Linked DNA regions of Homo sapiens: region 1 is linked to region 2. The links come from fine-mapping of genetic effects on gene expression. Tissue or cell type: whole blood. Region 2 holds a variant in brackets; the other region holds the start of a gene. All regions are shown on one strand. Distances are between the middles of the regions. Region 1 holds the start of QSOX1 (quiescin sulfhydryl oxidase 1). Region 2 has its middle 23 kb from the start of QSOX1.

Evidence for each region. PIP is the estimated chance that this variant, and not a neighbour inherited with it, causes the effect.
Region 1: QSOX1 starts here. The variant in region 2 is fine-mapped to the expression of QSOX1 in whole blood (TOPMed, PIP above 0.99).

Annotation. Positions count from the first base shown.
Region 1 is chr1:180,151,167-180,160,288 of GRCh38, reverse strand. It overlaps QSOX1 (quiescin sulfhydryl oxidase 1), which reads right to left and starts at 5,420. Exons shown (of 12, transcript NM_002826.5): 1 at 5,117-5,420. The coding sequence starts at 5,381. LOC105371636 (a long non-coding RNA gene) reads left to right here and starts at 5,451. Exons shown (of 2, transcript XR_001738314.3): 1 at 5,451-6,290; 2 at 7,100-7,681. RefSeq lists an enhancer at 5,146-5,245 and a silencer at 5,426-5,745.
Region 2 is chr1:180,127,304-180,136,425 of GRCh38, reverse strand. No RefSeq gene overlaps it. Among named protein-coding and RNA genes, the nearest start is that of QSOX1, 23 kb to the left of the region's middle. The variant G/T (reference allele first, on the strand shown) is at 4,871.

The sequences.
Region 1 (9,122 bases), 24 kb before region 2:
TAGTGTATTGAGACTCAGTTGCAAAAAAATGAACAAATAGTACTTGCTTAAAAAGGGTAAATTCCTCATCTGGCTCATTCTTTGATCTCTTCAATTTTAGTTGGTTTGGTTCATGGGTCCCTGGCTAAGCGTCATATTGTAAACTCTTAGTATTATCCTGGGGAGAGTCATTACAGTAGTTTCCCTGTTACACTGTATCCTCTCAAAGAGTCTTAAATATCTATATGCAGCCCTCTGCTGAATGCTAAATGGTCTCTCTCCAGCTGGAATGATAAAACTCCAAGAAACGCATGATAATGAGGACACCTTAACCTATAAATGATGTGTTAAGACCGAAAACCCAAAACGATGATTACTGAGAGTAGTGCTGATGCCCTGTTTTAGTAACTCTCACCTAGGTGAGAACCTGACCAAAAGGGGAGAACTGTTAAATAATATTTCTAGGAGGCCATTGGTTGGGACTGAGCTCCTGCACAAGGCCCAAGAGACCAAACCAAGATGGAGTCCCTCAAGCTGAAGTTCCACGCCACCAAGCCAAAACTAAGCTGTCGATCTGACCTTCCAAGATCAGGAGAGAGTGAGTTAACAGTCAAATCTTCAAACAAGCCAGTTTCAGCCAACATACAGAAGTCTCCTCTGCTTTAACCTTTAAAAGGGACCGAAATAACCAATCAGATTTTTGATCTGTTTCTACTTTCTTCAGCCTTTTTCTGTCTATAAAGCCAAACTCCTCTGCTCAGCTCATCAGAATACTCATTCTGTAAGACAGAATGTGGTGTTGTCCGATTCCAGAATCACAAATAGAAGCCAGTTAAGATTTTTGAATGTGGTGTAATTTTGTCTTTTGACAAGTAACAGGAGATGGAATAGAGAAGGTCCTTATGTGAGTGCTCCATTGTTAAAGCAAAGCTGCATTTAAGCTTTACTGTCAACGCAATGCAGAGCTGGGTGACAGAGGCTTTTTGAAGTGTCAGGTGTCTTAAATGCCTAACACCAAAATGATCAGTAGTATCAGTCTAGCTCTACTACTGGGGAGAAAACCCTTTCCTGGTGCAATTATTGCTCTGAACAGCGTAATTTTTCTACCAACCACAGAATAAATGGACTAATGGAGAGGGGAAGGGTGGCGAGGCAAGAGAAGTTGGACAGCTGTAAATCTTGGATTGATGGGTGAGGGGATGCCCTCTGGTAGGGGGTGTTGTGGGGATTCTGCTGAGCCCCCACTGGGGGCTTGGTCTGGAGTCAAGGGCAGCGTCCCCTGCCCCACTCACAAGTGCAGGGAGGGCACTGGGTGGAGCAGGAAGCCTTGCTTGGAGTTTAACTGGCTGCAGCACCGTGAGCTCCACATGTCTCTCTGGACCTCTGCTTCCTCCTGGATCAGCGAGGGCCAGGATGAATGATCTCTAATGCCCCTTCTAGCTCTGACAACCGTTGAGGTGCTGGATGGCAAACAACTCTTAACAAGAAACATGCAGCCTCCGAGTGTTAAGTGGGTCTGGACTTCCATGAAGACAGAGGCACAGATTTACCCAAACCACCAAGAGCCAGTCAGACCTGGTGGTCTAGTGACTAGAATCTACTGACCCTCAGCTCTGGACTCTACACCGAAGAATTCAGGAGCTCTCCTGACACAGAGAGTTAGTTTATGCCCTGTCCAGCTAGTCAGCACTATGCGGTCACCAACTCATGCCTTCCTTCCTCCTTGCTGACAGTTTCTGGGCAGTGACGTCACTGGATGGACAAAATGCCTTCTCTACCCCTCACACCTGGCTGACACCCCCGGTCTGAGTCAAGAGGATCCACGGCACCAGCAGAAGGTTCTACACTCACGCTGTCATTTGGAATCCTGTGAGGCTCAGGCCACTGGCCACCATGAACGTGCAGTGGGCTCCTACTCTGCACCAGGCTCTGTGCTGGGAATCACAGGTACACATAGCAGATGTGGCCTGTGCCGTGGAAGAGAAGGGGGGCAAAACCAACACTGCTCACTGTCACTCAAACACACGCCTTACGAACCTCACCTCCATAGCTCGGCACATGCTGTTTTTCCACCTGGAGTATCCTTCCTCCTCCACCCACCTCTCTACCTGCCCAGGCTCCAGAAAGCCAAAAAGAGCTGGAGTCAATGACCTTCTCCAGCATCTGTGTAAACCTGGAAAGTTACTTACCTGTTTTAAAAAAAGAGGAAGACAATATCCATAGTACAGATATTTTCCCGGGTAAGGATTGTCATAATAATGGCCTGTGAAGGCCCTTAGCAAAGTGCTGGCATAAGGCAAGCGTGTAATAAATAACTACTGGCATGAAGGCCTCTGGTGATCAGATTAGCCCTCTGTGACTTTCCCCTCCCCTGGGTTCCCATAAGAAATGGCTGAACCACTCCTTTGGCCTTTTTCAAACACAGCTTTGTAACAGTTGCCAATTTTCCTTCTATGAGTAGCTCATTTCCCCAACTGCAATGCAAACAATGCTTATCACTCAACAAATATTTGCTGATTGATTAGCCAGTGAATAGCAATGAAGGTCTAAATTGGATACAACCAGTTTCCAAAACATACAGTGAGACAACCGGAGCTGCTCTGGAATAGAAAGGGGATAAACCAGGTTCTCAGAAACACATGCTCTGCCCCGGGGCAGCAGGTGCCTAGAGAATCTACTGCCCTAGTCACTGAAGAAATGAACCCTATTCAGTCAGATTAAATGCCTGAAGCCAGCCAAATATGGCTGCAAAATTCTTCTCTCTCCCTGTGACCTTCACTCTGTCTCTGTTCCTGCCTCAAGATACAGGTGTCCTCAGCAGAGAGCATGGGCAGTACTCACACAGCCCAGGGTGGGATGAGCACAGCCCTCTGCGGGCCCACAACCAACCTTTCTCAAGAAACCTCAGGACACAGAGATGAAGCGAGACCAACCCTAGCTTCTCAGCAGGGCCTCACCAGGGAACACCCCTTTGGGTTAGAGTGGAGGACATTCTTCATTGCAGGCTGACAGCAGATTCTGCCAGTGCCCTCCCAACACGATCTGGCTCAAGGACTGACTCACACCAATGGCTCACAGGAGACCTCCAGTTTCCACTGAAATCTCCCACCTCCCATTTACCCTGGCTCACCCCCACAGACTTTGATCCTTCCATTTCCTTTTCAGAGGTTAAATTCTGATTTCGCTTTCTTATTTTAGAGAAAGGCTCCATGCACTGGGGAATCCTGTTTGGAAGTGGTAACCCTCATCCAGGAGCAGAATGGGTCAGTATCTAGACATGCAACTCATAGGAAAACTAAAAACTCTGCATTGCAAGAGGCCAAACATGTGAGTCAGCTGGAAGCTAATCTTTCCCCCCAGCACTCTCAAGAAGGAAGAAATTCTAGAATAAGTCCATCTGCAGCCACTGAACACCTCTTATAACCTCAAAGTGGAAAGCGATCTGGGAATTTTTATGATGTTCATGCCCACAATGTCCCCTGAGATTACCTTATCTTAGGTGTTCCAGTTCCATGATCCATGTTCTTCCTCCCTCCTCCCCTGACCAGATGTGTTGACATCACTCCTCCCCTGACCAAATGTGTTGAAATGGTGTGAAGCACTGCTCAGAAAGGCACGTTCAGCTAATGGGACCAGTGAGGCATGTAGGCAAGTGTAAACTGGAGGTCAAAACAGCTTATAAGTTTCATTTAAAAATAATTTTCCAGGACCATATGGCTAAAAGATGTACACATGGTTCCATCTCGCCTCTTCAGAAACCAATCTGCAAGCTGCTCAGGAAAAGAGGAGGGTGAGTCTGAAAACTAACATCTACAAAGGCACTGTTCTACCACAAAGAGTTGAATTTATCAAGAAATACCAACAGTGGAACAATGGTTCCAGTTCCCCTTTCTCTAGAAAAAGGCCTATTTCCAAAGATGCCCACAGTTCTCATTCAATGACCATTTCAGGGTAGGAGGCCGTGCTAGCGACCTAGCACCAGAGTCAGGAAGTAACTCCATTCAGAGGCAGCAAGTCAGGAACAAATCACTATCACTATACCACTCCTGCCCGCCAAATACCCACTACCTGGATTAGGTGGATGTGTGACACCACAGGAATCTTTAAATTGTGGAAAGGAAACTATGAGACAATGTATGCCGAGTACTTAGTAAGGTGCCTGAAATGATAGGTGCTCCGTAAATATTAATTACTATTATTACCATATTTCCTCGACTCTAAGTCTTAAGTGTTTCAAAATTTTAGCATTTCTGTAATAGAGTTCACCTTCAAATCTTTATACATGTAGTGGTTTTTTCCTATCCTTCTACCCCTTGGGCTGTCATAAAATGAACAGTGTGTCTCACAGTTGATGGTGTCTTGGAATTCAGGAAATATAGTTTTGGTGCCCCAACCAGGGATTGGGAACATGGAGCAAGAGCCAAACACGCACCAAAGGCCTCTGGGTGCATGGGTTTAAAATATAAGGGTCTGAGCGGGGGAAGAGAGAGAAGGATGTGGCCCAGAAGCTAAGGAGCTGGAGGCGGCAGGTCAGGAGAGGCCCGGAACAGAGATAGGAAAACTGCCAGGTGGACATACCCACATCAAAGACAAAAATGAGAAAGGAAGTCTATGTACCACCTGGTCAACCAGTCGAGGGAGTGGAGAAAGGTGGCAGGGAGGCAAAATGGATGTCCGTTCCCTTTTCTCCCCAGCACTGACCCACAGCAGCTAGGGAACCTGGCAGGAAGATGACATGGGTCCCTGGACGAGAGGAAGAGGACTGCCACAAGGCTGGCCCAGGAAACGGTAAGGTGTCAGCGGACCATGCGGAGGAAGGAACAAAGGAGACCTCTCGCAGGGAAGGAGGCAGTAACCTGGCGGGGGACGAACCGGGCGAGCAGGGCAGGTCTGGGGGCCCAGGCCGCGGAGAGGGAAAGAAGCTCGGGATGAGGGCCAAGAGGAAAAGGCAAGGGAGCGGGAGGCAAAAATGGAGCTGAGAAACATGAAGGTGGTGGGCGTGGGATGCGCGGAGAGGAAGAGGTGGGCGGAGGTGACTGGAAGAGGGACGCGCTCCCGGAGTAGGAGGCTGCCCACCGGGCAGGTGGAGGGGTCCGGGCGGCGGGGCACGGGGGAGCGGGCCGCCCCCGCTTCTCACCTTTGACGTCTTCGGCCAGCGCCTTCCACGTCGGGGCGAAGGCGATGCAGTGGCCGCACCAGGAGGCGAAGAACTCCACGGCCCAGGCGCTGCGGGAGCCCAGCACCGCGCCGCGCACCGTGTCCGCCTGCAGCAGCGTCAGCGGGTCGGAAGGCGAATAGAGCGCCGACCGCGGGGCCGCGTTAGCGCCGGGAACCGCGAGCAGCCACAGCAGCAGCAGCAGCAGCGACGGCGGCGGCCCGGAGCCGCTGTTGCACCTCCTCATCCTCGGCGCTGCGCTCACCACCACACGCAAGCACCGGATGAGTCGGGTCCCGGCGCCGCGGCACCGCCTGCCTCCGCCCGCAAGGAGGAGCCACGTGGCCCCGCCCCTGAGCCCCCGCCCCCGAGCCCCCGCCCCCGAGGCCGGCCCAGCCACCCCGCCCCGCCGGCCGCTCCTGGGCGCGGGAGCGGGCGGGGCTGAGCTTGTTGCAGGGGCTGGCCCTGGCCGGGTGGTGAGCCATCCTTTCGCGGTCCGCCGAGGCCTCGGAGCAGCGCGACCCGGGTTCCCGCCTCAGGCCCCAGGAGGCGAGGTGTACAGTCCGGTAAAGGAATGGAGCGCCCGCCGAGCGGTCGCTGCGGGGGTAGCCTCGCGGAGGTTGTTTGGCCTCTCACGGCCCCCGTATCCAACGGAAGAGGAGTCCGTTGGAATAGACGACCCGGATTTCGGCTGTTGTAGGGCAGTTCCTGGGCTCCCGCGGAGCGATGAGACGTTGTGAATTAGATGTGAGAAGAGGGACGCTTGGTCTGCGACCACCAAGACCCCACAGGATCGATGCACCCACCCCTGCTGATGACCATGACCATCTAAAGGGGAACATCATTTGAGGGGCCCTACTCATGGATCAGAAGCCCCTCTTCACTGTGGGGTGTGCTGGGTTGGCGGGCAGTTGCCGTGGAATCAGTTTCCTCAGGACCCATATCTGACCACCCTCATAAGGTTGTCAGGGCGATTCCAACATTCGGGGTTCCCAGCAGCCCAGATCCCCCACATCCAGCTCTTCAGCCTACTCAGAGCTCTCCACGCTCACTCACATGTCCCTCTCGCAAGTAGCCCGATCAACTCACCTGGTGTCATGGGCACTAAGGTGTTAATGGATTTTCTCTGGTCACCTTTGCAGCTCCACTGTTTTGAGTGAGTTATTTTAAGGGGAGAAGGTGCTCCTCAGACGGTTGTCACAGTGATATTTTTCCTTTGTGACTGCCAGGTTAGCCCCTTTCACCTGTAAGAGCTTTGAGCCTAGATTTGTTATTCATTTATTCAAGTTTTACTGAGTGGTGTCATGCCAGGCACTTGTTTAGGTATAAGGATAAGGCAGTAAACAAAATATAGACTCTAGGGACGTGGAACTTACATTCCAGTGGGGGTAAAGAGATGATACATAAGTAAATGTAGATCAGATGGTGACCGATGTTATGAAGAAATGTAGACTGGGGTAAGAATAGAGTGGCAGAGGAGGTGCTATTTTACACACGAAGATCAGGGACAGGTCTACCCTTAATATTTGCAAGAACTGAGTCAGTAGTACAAATGGAGGCCCACATATCATGTCTACATATTTTAAAACTACAAATTAAACGGTGATGTAAAATTCCTATCCTTTTATCTTGACATGTATACCTTCATCATAATCTGGAAGGCCACATTTAAGTTTAGGATTCTTGGACCCTTCTGAGATACGCCCTCGAATGTAGTGCTTTGGAGGGGGAACATGTCCTTGGCCCTCAGCCTTCCTTCTTCTCTTGGCACCCCAGCTCTGTCCCATACTTCAAATGGCCTTTTGCCCACACCTATAACAACGACATCTGCACATCAGAGTTTTGTCCACACCTGCAAATAGCCTCCCCTTGACCACCCCTTGCTCCTCAGGAGGATAGACCTTGGGAAAAGGCTGAGGCAGCCTGTAGCTGGTGACCTGTTGCTATTGCGGCACTATTTTCTAGGGTCCCAGGAACTCACAGTATGCTCTAAAAAGGAGAGGGGCAAGAGCTCTGAGTGAGTACATCCCGTTGGCCCGTGGGATTTCTTGCCCTATGGAAAGGAACATGGACGGAAGAGAATCAGGTGCTCAGAGCCCTAGACTGGGGCTCCTCTTGCCCCAGTCTTGAGGCAGTTCTAAAGAGGTAACATTTGAGCCAAAGACCTAAATGAAGTATGGGAGGAAGCCCTGTGGGAGTCTGGGTTAGGAGCACTCCAGGAAGTGGTCCAGAGGTTGGAGTTTTTACTCCCTTCATGTGTTCATATCTGTCTGCCTGAAGTCTTAAGCTGCATAGAGAAATTATGTGTTAGCCAATTGGAGTGTTAGTACCTTGCTAACTCTCCTCCCCATGACGCAGCCAATTCCAGTTGCTGGGTACTCCTCCCCGGGACTCAGTCCCTGTACAGCTTCTGCTCTCCAACTTTTCTCGCTCCTAGCAGCCTCTGGAACCAGAATGGACGGTCCTCTAGTAACGCTGGATTCTATGGGTTGGAAGTACTGCAGCGGCTGGATCAGGTTCCAGTAAAGTTTTGTACCTTCAAATGTCTCTGTTGTTAAACAGTGTTGTAGTTATCTTTCCCATGGGCCTAGAAATTAAGGAGACAAATGTCTACTGAACATGCTGAGTGCTTGAGAAAGACACTCCAGATAAATACATAAAGACTTGCTTGTTTGAATATCTGTTTCAGAGCATCAGAAATGGCAAAGAATACAAACTATTTGAATGGAATAGAGAAAAGTTTCTTGGCAATGGTGCCAAAGAGGTTTAAGACTGAGAGTTTTAAAGTCTGGGGTTTCTGTATCTCATCAGAAGGGGGATTTTCGACTTTTTAAAGACTTGGAAACCATTGTTCAAACAGAATCTTGAAACTTAAACAGATAAGAGCAATAACAAAGATATAACCTAGAGCAAAACCCACTTTCTGTGGTCAGTGGGGCTCCCTAGGCCTCTATTTGACAATCACTGGTTTAGAATTAAGAGCAGAAAACGTGAGAATCGCAATTGCCCTTCTTGCCCTTCCTGGAACTTCCTGGGATGAAAAGGTTGCGGAAAAGGAAATCTACTCAGAAATGGGTGTTGAGAGAGGAAGGGGTGCTGCGGAAAACCCCGGAAGCTGGAGGGAGCACTTAGAAATTCCTACCGAAGTCCCCTTTTCCCCCTTCCTACATATAAATTGTAGGAAAGGGGGCCGAGATGAATCAGATGAGCAAATACTCATGGTGTGGGCTAGCACTTTGCACCTGCTGCTCTAAGGATTTACAGATGGTACTCATTTAGTCCTCACACCAACCCTTAATATGAGGGTTGATATTATACCAACTCTGAACCTCAACATGAGGTTGATAAACCATTTTTACAGATGGGGACTGAAGCGGAAGGGGCCCTGTTGACTTTACCACTTGTGAATCATTCATGTGTTATGCATGAATAAAAGAGAGGGAATTTGGAAGTCTGCCACCCAAAAATGAAATAAATTATGAGAGGAACGCAGCTTATACACAATTCACATAATTATAGTGAGCAATAGAAGAGTGTTTGGTAAAATATGTCACCCAGTAGCATTAGATGACTTTCCCCTTACTCATTCGCACCAAGGATCAGAGAAGGTGTATGCAACTGGAGGCAGGTGCCCAGCAACAGAAAAGAGACCCTTGCTTTGTCCCTCAAAACTCTAGGTCTTCCAGATGAACCTTTCCACAGCTGGGACAGTTAGAACCCTAATTCTGAAAGTTGGAAGAAAAATAGCAAGAGTGTGTATCAGTTAGATATGAAAGGAAAGAGAAAGCACGTTCCAAGGGTCTACTGAAAATGGTTTACTGGAAGAACTATTCACAAGGTTGTGTGCAGGGCAGAGGGAACTAATTAGGGACTGGCAAAAGCAAAAAGCCTTTCTAGCACTCCTGGACCAGAGCAGAGAAAGGGAGGGAATTTTGTGATGAAAACCAGTGACAGCAGGAAGTGAGGGAGAGGGGCTGCCCAACTGGTG
Region 2 (9,122 bases):
CACTTCTGGGATTCCCTCCTCATTTTCTAAATGGCTTTAGGTGCCCTAAACTGTGTCTCCTGGTCTTCAGGCCAGAAAATATTGCTAATTTCCCACCAAAGTTTTAGCTGCTCTACACACAGTACCAACTGCAGCCTGCCTTCAAATTAACTGTCATAAAAATGGGACACTTTATTTTATATTGTTTCCCTCTTCCAAATGTTGACTCTGCTTCAGAATCTGCCTGCCTTTTTCACTCTCCAGTGTCTGTATGCAGTTTGTGTGTGTGTGTGTGTGTGTGTGTGTGTGTGTGTGTGTGTGTTTTCCAGAGATTATATTTTGTATATGTGAGAGGATGAATTCATAGGAAATTATTTGGTCATAGTGAAAACAGAAGACCAGATTTAAACATTTAAAAAATGTGTTTTTATATAAATAAGACTATAGCAATAAACAGAGCTTGAAATAAAAAAATAAGTTATCCACAATCTTTTTTCAGCTCATCTATAGTCCCTTCCATGTCTTATCTTTATATTCATTTTTAACATTGTTATGACAATGGTACACTTATAATTTTGTATCTTTTTTATATATACCACTTACCAATGGTGTGCTGGAAAATGTTTTAACAACTTGCTCTCTGGGGATGGGGTAAGCCCTAATTGGTAGTGTTTGCCAATTTCTCTCGTGTAAATACTCCCACCATGGCTGATTTCATGCTACTGACATGACATCATGGAATGCAGAGTTGGGAAGAATGCACACAATTGGCTCTCTCAAGCCAGTATGGGCTGAGTCCAGCACACCACTAATTACAGTGGTTGTAAAATATTCTGCCAAATGAGTGGGTAACAGTTTACTCCATTATTTCTACAACATTGAATATTATGGTTATTTTTAATGTTTTATAGTCATAAACGTTTATGCATATCTTTGGTGTTTATCTCTTTTTCCTCAAAAAGTTCATTAGGTCAAAATATATATGAAAAATTTTGTGGTTCATGGTACAAATTGTTGTGGACAAGAGTGGCTTTTTTTCTTTTGAGACAGGGTTTTGTTCTGTCCACCATGCTGGAGTGCAGTGGCATGATCTTAGTTCACTGCAACCTCGACCTCCTGGCTCAAACGATCCTCCTGCCTCAGCCTCCTGAATACCTGGGACTGAAGATGTGTGCCACCATACCCAGCTACTTTTTTTTTTTAATAGAGATGAAGTCTTGCTATGTTGTCCAGGGTGGTCTCAAACTCCTTGGCTCAAGTGATCCTTCCACCTCGGCCTCCCAAAGTGCTGAGATTTACAGGCATTAGTCACTGTGCCCAGCCAAGAGTGACTTTATTTTAAATGCTAATCTACCTGACTAACTTCAAGTCCAGGAACAAAATGTCTAGTTGATGTATTACTCTTTCTGTGGGAATACCTCTTCATTTCAAGTTTTGCTTTTCCTCCAAAGCAACCCTTGATGCTGTTGCAGAAATAGGCTGTGATGCTGGTAGCCACCTACACTTCCCAGAGCACGTATACTTCCAGATACATTATATTCCACATACACTTTCAGAGCACATACACTTTTTCCCCGAGATAGAGGCCCTGGGTTTCGGGGGTTGCAGTACAGAGACCTACGTATCTCGTGGCTGCCCAAGAGCATGCTTCTGTCTTTAAGTTGCCCTAGTAAGTGACCTAAAATCAACAAACTGGATTTGACAGCCTCCTGCTTTGGTTTCTGGACTTCTTTGACACTTGGGCATCACTCTGCGTAAATGGCCCTTTCACGGAACAATTGTAATTTCCAAAAGTATTGTGCCAATTGATATGACCACAGCTCTGTACAAAGGTACCAACAATTTTTTGAAAGGGTGCCAACACCTTTTACCAGGATCCCACTGTAAATATAAAATAAATATTATCAGTGTATTCCTTCTCTTCTCATTTCTGTATTAAGATTCTAACATAAAACTCTGCCAAAGGAACGTTCTGGACTCAACATTATGTTATTCCCCAGCTCCTTTTGGGAAACTTGGCCTTGAACAATGCAACAGTAAGTCCATAGAGCTGCCACATAACCAGCTTATGTCATCTACAAATATCACAAGTGGATAAAGAGCAGAAGTGAAGCGTTTGGCAAAATCCCTTGGAGGGGCTATGTGCTTGTTTCTCTTTATATACCTTATCCAGTTTCTTTCCTATGCCTTTCTCCTCCACTGTTTGAATGTTTCTGTGAGATCAGAAGGAGTTCCATTTCACTTTCATCTCCCTAATAGTTTTTTTTTTTTTTGAGACAGAGTCTTGCTCTGTCGCCCAGGCTGGAGTGCAGTGGCACAATCTCAGCTCACTGCAACCTCTGCCTCCTGGATTCAAGCAATTCTCTGCCTCAGCCTCTTGAGTAGCTGGGATTACAGGCGTGCACCACCACGCCCAGCTATTTTTTGTATTTTTAGTAGAGACAGATTTTCACCATGTTGGCCAGGCTGGTCTCAAACTCCTGACCTCGTGATCCGCCCACCTTGGGCTCCCAAAGTGCTGGGATTACAGGCGTAAGTCACCGCGCCGACCTCATCTCCCTGATAGTTTTATCTCCTACTTTCCATTTCGGGGAAAAATGGCATTTGGGGACTGAGAGGAGGAGGAGAGAAGGTATTTGGAGAGGAGAATGTAGTATCTACTTGTGCTGTTATTTTCCTGATCCTTTTATCTTTGGTGACCAGGATGACATGTTGAACTCAGCATGGCTTTCAGCCAGAGCATACCTGTTTCCCATAGACCTCCGATTGGCAGGGGTTAATCATGAAACAGCCTCTTGGCCATCTAGGGGTGCTCCTTCCCCCGACTGTGAACTGCAAAGAGCAGGACCCCTGGTAAACAAGTGCTTGGTAAATGCTGGCTCCTTCCCTCCTCTTCCCTTTGCTGGGAAGCAGGCAGGCTGGTTGGATCCAGGGAAGCAGTTTCGTATGGTAGAATAAAACATGAGCTTGGAGTCAAGTCAAACTAATTGGATTCCTAGGTCCTCAGCTGACCTGTGTTTGATCCTGGACAAAGTCCTTGAGCTCCCTGACTCCTGCTTTTCACTGGGAGAACACTACCTCTCTTTGGTCACAATGAGGCTTATTGATCTATTTTTGTTTTGTTTTGTTTTGTTTCTAGATGGAGTTTTGCTCTGTTGCCCAGGCTGGAGTATAGTGGCACAATTACAGCTCACTACAGCCTTGACCTCCTAGACTCAAGTGATCCTTCTACCTCAGCCTCTTGAGTAGCTGGGACAACAGCCACAGGCTACCAGCCCTGGCTAATTTAAAATTTTTTTTTGTAGAGATGGGGTCTTGTTATGTTGCCCAGGCTGGTCTTGAACTCCTGGGCTCAAGTAATCCTCCCACCTTGGCTGTCCAAAGTACTGGGATTAGAGGCATGAGCCACCCACCCAGCTTATCTGATTTTTGTAAAGTTGCCCCTTCCCAAATCACCTACACAAAAAGCCCTACGTCACCAAAGAACTTTTACAGGAAACTCACATTGGAAGACTTACTGCTTCTTCTTGGGCTACCCTGGAGGGTGACATTCAGCAAATGGCAGGACAGCATCAGGCCCTGGTTTCCCTTCCTTCATCTAGCCAGATGACAGCTGCAGACACTATGGCTGGAGGAGCACCCCATGGGGACCAAGCCTCTATGTGGATTCATATTACTATTGCCCCAGGAAAGTAAACCCAGGCTGGGAGTCTGTCAGGCCTCTTGGGGACCGGGTGGAGGTGGAAGTTACTGCTTACGCTTACGAAGGAAGCGATCTCAGAAGGCAGAGGCCATTGCTGCGAGCTAGACAGACGCTCTCCCTCTGTGCTCATCTCTAGCTTGCTGGGGATCTCCTCACTGGCCAGGTATTACAGGATGGACTCCATCCATAAGGAAAAAACCATGACTCCCACTCAGACAGCGCCTGACTGTCCATGCAGCACTTGCTGCCTCCTTTGATGGAAGTAGGCAGGGCAAGCATGACTAAGATGATGGTGGTGAAGAGACCAAGGCTATAAAAGCTGCTTGGGTTACCTGCCTAGTGAGTAAGAACATACTCCACAGCCCAACCTGAACCCAGCAGACCACCCCCAGGACCGCGCCAGGAAGGTGAAAGAGGCAGCAGAGGCCAGTTCCTTCCTGGGGCAGCGGGCTCCGCTTCTATCATCAGGTTGCTTCCCAGGCTCCAGGGTGAGCCATTCTATACCCTTTTCTCGCTCCTCAAGCCTCCAGCATGCTTTCTTCCCCCTTGTACATTCACACAAGACCTCACTTCGGTCACTTTGATGACAAAATAGAAGCCATCAGACTGGAACTCCTTTTCCTCCCACCATCAAGCTAGAAGCCACCTCGCGCCCAGACTCATCTTCTGTCTTCCCTCCTGCCCCTTCCTCCCATCAACACCGGCCCCTCCACTTGCACTCTGGATCCCACTTTGCTGCTGGTCCCCCAACCCCACTCGCAAATCTCACTTTTTCTCCCCCACAAGGTCAATTCCTTCAGCAAACAACCTGCTCTCTGTCTCTCACTAAAACAAAGTGGAACTCTTGTATGAACATACACCCTTCTCCAGATACTGCCCCATTTCCTCCCCCCTCTTCAAAACTTGACAAGAGTTGTCTGTCTTCACTGCATCATCACCCTGACCTTCATGGCCTGCCCCACTCCCGTCTGCGTTCTGATCTCACCATTCCACTGAAACTGCTGGTCGAGGTCAGTGGCAGTCTCTGCGTTGCCCCATTCAAAGGTTATGTCTGTCTTCCTCTGACTCAACCTCTCAGCAGCTTGCAACACAGCTGATGGCCCCCTCCTTCTTGAAACACGTTCTTCCTTCAGCTTTTAGTTTAAACCACATACATTCACTGGCTTGCTGCAATAACAGATTACCACA[G/T]ATTTTGTGGCTTACAACTATGCAAATTTATTATTTTATAGTTCTGTAGTTCAGAAATCCAACATGGGGCTCACTGGGCTAAAATCAGAGTGTTGGCAGAGTTAGATTCTTTGCCAGAGGTTCTAGGGGCAAATCCATTTCCTTAATCATTCAGTTTATTAGAAGAATTCAGTCCTTGCGGCTGAAGGACTGAGGTCCTGTGTCTGGGCTGGCTGTCAGCTGAGGGCCGTTCCCAGTTTCTAGAGGTCACCTGAATTTTTGGCTTCTCCATCTTGAGAGCCGGCAGTGGTGGGTCAATTCTTCCTCGTGTTTTACATCTTCTGAGCCCCTTTCATCATCACACCTCTCTGACTCCCACTGCTGCCTTGTGTATTTGTAAAGAATCGGGTGGTTAGATTGGGCCCACTGAGATAATCCAGGATAATTTCTCCATCCCAAACTCCTTAACCTCAGTTGCACCTGCAAGGTCCCTTTTGTCACCTAAGGTAACATATTCACATGTTCCTCAGATTAGGGTATGGACATTCTGGTGCCCACTGTTGAGCCTACCATGTCATCTGCTTGTTCTCTTCCTACTTCCCCAGCAACTCCTTCTCAGTCTCCTTTACTGGCTCTTAATCATCCCACAGCTCTGAATGTGAGAGGCCCTCAGCCATCAGCCTTCAGCCTTCTTATCTCCTACATGTTCTCTGCAAGCAATCCCATCCGATTTTGTCCCTTGTAAATACCATCTGCAGGCTGGCGTGGTGGCTCATGCCTGTAATCCCAGCACTTTGGAAGCTAAGGTGAGTGGATTGCTTGAGCTCAGGAGTTTGAGACCAGCCTGGGCAACATGGAAAAAGCTGTCTCCACTAAAAATATAAAAAATTAGCCAGGTGTGGTGGTGCATGCCTGTAGTCCCAGCTCCTCAGGAGGCTGAGGTGGGAGGATGGCTTGAGCCCAGAAGATGCCACTGCACTCCAGCCTGGGTGACAGCGAGACTCTTGTCTCAAATAATAATAATAATAACATAAATAAATAAATACATCTGTGAACCACTGCTCCTAAATTTATATTTTTAGCCCTAAATTCACTCTTGAGTTCAAAATTCATGTATCTGACTCAATATTGCCATTGGAATAAATGACTGCCATCTTGAAGTTGACATGTCCTAACTGAAACTGTGGGTTTTCTTTACAAACTCTATTTCTCCCCTAGTCTGGACTCATTCAGTAAAGACATCACACCAGCTTGCTACTCAGGCCCCAGACCTAGGAGTCATGCCAGAGCCCTGTTTATTTTTCTTTTTTTTTTGAGACAGAGTCTCGCTCTGTCGCCCAGGCTGGAGTGCAGTGGTGCGATCTCGGCTCACTCTAACCTCCACTTCCCCAGGCTCAAGCGATTCTCCTGCCTCAGCCTCCCAAATAGCTGGGACTACAGGTGCGTGTCACCACGCCTGGCTAATTTTTGTATTTTAGTAGAGATGGGGTTTCACCTTGTTGGCCAGACTGGTCTCGAACTCCTGACCTCAAGCGATCTGCCCGCCTCGGCCTCCCAAAGTGCCGAGTTTATAGGCGTGAGCCACCGTGCCCGGCCTCATCAGCCGTTTTCTTGAACACCCTCTCCCTGATTCTTACACAGTCAATTCCTCCACATTATTCAGGTCTCAGGTTTTTTGTTATTCGTTGTTTGTTTTCCCCGCTCAGGTCTCAGTTTTACAGTTGTCTCCTGAGAGAGGTCTTGGCAGTCCTCCTGAGAGTAGTTCTTCCCTTCTGCCTGGCCCAGCCTGCACCCCACCTTCCTGCAGAGTCATTCTCTCTTGATTTTCCCTGTTTGATTTCCTTCACTCCCCTTGTCTCCATCTGGAATGATAATGCTTATTTCTTTGTTTCCTTGTTAAATATCTTCCTTCTCACCTCCCACCCTGACTGCTGTGCCAAGAAGGTGCATGAAGGCAAGAATCGCCGTCTGTCTTTCTCACTCCTGTTACCGGGGGCCTAGAAACATGCCTCCCTAGTGCATGTTTTTTGGGTGGATTCGCAGCGAATGCCCCACGTTCCCTCTATCCCACTCCCTTCTGCTCCCTGCTTTCCCACACTTTCTCTTCCTTTACAAGCTCTGGCCTGAGAACGGATGAGTTTTTTATTTTTTTTCCAGCACTCAATCTGTTAACGACTTTGAAGATCCCTGACTAAAACCAAATAATAATTACACTAATTACACTTAATTGTGAGCATTTATATCACACTTACTATTTCCGAGCACCGCCATAAGCACCTTACTCATCCTGAATAGGCACGCTGTTCCTCGGTTATTCCTCACTGTAATCATCTCCATTCACAGAGGAGGAAGGCGAGGCACAGAGAGACTAATGTGCCCAAAGTTCCACAATAAGGAAATGGTGGCAGCAACCTCCCGAGAGCCAGGCCTGACGGGCCTCTGCCAGGGCCCCACGCTTTAGATGGCCTGCTCTGGCCTCTGTCTGGCGGTGCCCTCCCCACAAGGCAAGGAGCCCTCGGAGCCAAGGGGAAGGCTCACTTCCTGCTTGTGGACTACACTTGGGAGCACACACTGTGGAATTCCAGCCCACACAGCCATGAGGCTGCTGCCAGGGCCTCTCCCCAGGCCTGTCTTCCTTTGGGTGCATGCTGCCACCTCAGTGGGCCCAAATGGTGGCCGCAGGGCAGCTCTTTATGAAAAGTGTGGACAGAATTTGAACCAGCAGTCTCACTGTCCACACGTGGCCCCTTTGAAGGTGTGACAGAGCAGGGCGTGGGAAGAGGAGGGCGAGCCATGGGCCTCCCCACACTCCCTCCTCCAGACACAGAACTGTGTGGAGCCCCAGAGTTCTGCATTCACACCTGGCCTTCCAGGTCATTGAGAAGTTTATGTGTCAACGTAGGAGGGTGGAGTGTATTCTCCTTATGTCTGTCGGCTTGACTGACAGCTTTAAAGTATTTTAAATATTTAGACATGTGGTCTGTGGCCTCCTTCCATCCTCCCCTCTGGGCCCACAGATCCTGGGGTGGGTCTGAGTGGCAGAGCTAGGCGTGGACCCAAGAAGCCTGGCCCGGGCTCCCTCCCATGCTGCACCCGGGAAGCCTTTGTGTTCCGAGCCACGCGCCTTCCCAGAGGATGCCCTGCACCTTGGCTGTCCAGTCCTGTCCCCCATTTGCTTCTCCCCTGGGAGCTCAAATATGGGTCATTCCCACCGTATCCAGCAAACTGCACGACGCTCTCTCATGGGAGGCCTGCTCTTGCTGGCATCCTGAGCTGGTCACCAGTGATCCGTAGAGTGGTTCGAAGCGTATGTTTTGGGTTTGAATGCCAGTTCCACCACTTATTAACTGTGACATCAGGCAAATTATGTAAGCTCTTAGCCTATTTTGTGTTCTGTTTTCAAGGATTAAGTGGGAATGTCTACACATTCAGTAAATGTTTGTCATCGTCATGGCACTCCACCATTTGCTCTGCGGTCTGGGGACAATGCCCTGTGGCTCAGCCGTTTCTCCAGGAAGCTGCCTCAGGTGGACGCCAAGCACAGAGCTGGCAGGAGCAGGGACTAAAATAAACAGCCACAGAGTCCCCAGTGGGAAGTCCTAGGCCCTGGGCACAGCTGAGCTGGAAGGGATGAGGTGACCCGTTTTCCCTGCAGTGCTCAAAGTGGGATTCTTATGAGCTGCTGGGAGCCATGCAGTCCTGGAACGTGGCAGGCACGTCACCACCTTGAGGATTCTCTATGTACTTCCCTGCAAAATTCTTCTGCCTGTGACATGTGCCACCTGCCATCTTCCCCTTTGCTAATAATGATTGCACCACACACTCAGACACAAACACACATTCACAGACATGCAAATTGTTTTCAATTCTTTTTTTTTTTTTTTTTTTTTTGAGGTGGAGTCTTGCTCTGTTGCCCAGGCTGGAGTGCAGTGGTGTGATCTCGGCTCACTGCAAGCTCCGCCTCCCGAGTTCACGCCATTCTCCTGCCTCAGCCTCCCGAGTAGCTGGGACTACAGGCGTCCGCCACCATGCCTGGCTAATATTTTTGTATTTTTAGTAGAGATGGGGTTTCACCGTGTTAGCCAGGATGGTCTCGATCTCCTAACCTCGTGATCCACTCGCCTTGGCCTCCCAAAGTGCTGGGATTACAGGCGTGAGCCACCATGCCCGACCTGTTTTCAGTTCTTTTTAATAGCTAAATATAAAGCATCCCTTGACAAGAGTTTAATTTGTCATATTGAGAAATGAAGGCTGCCTTTCAACTCACTATGAA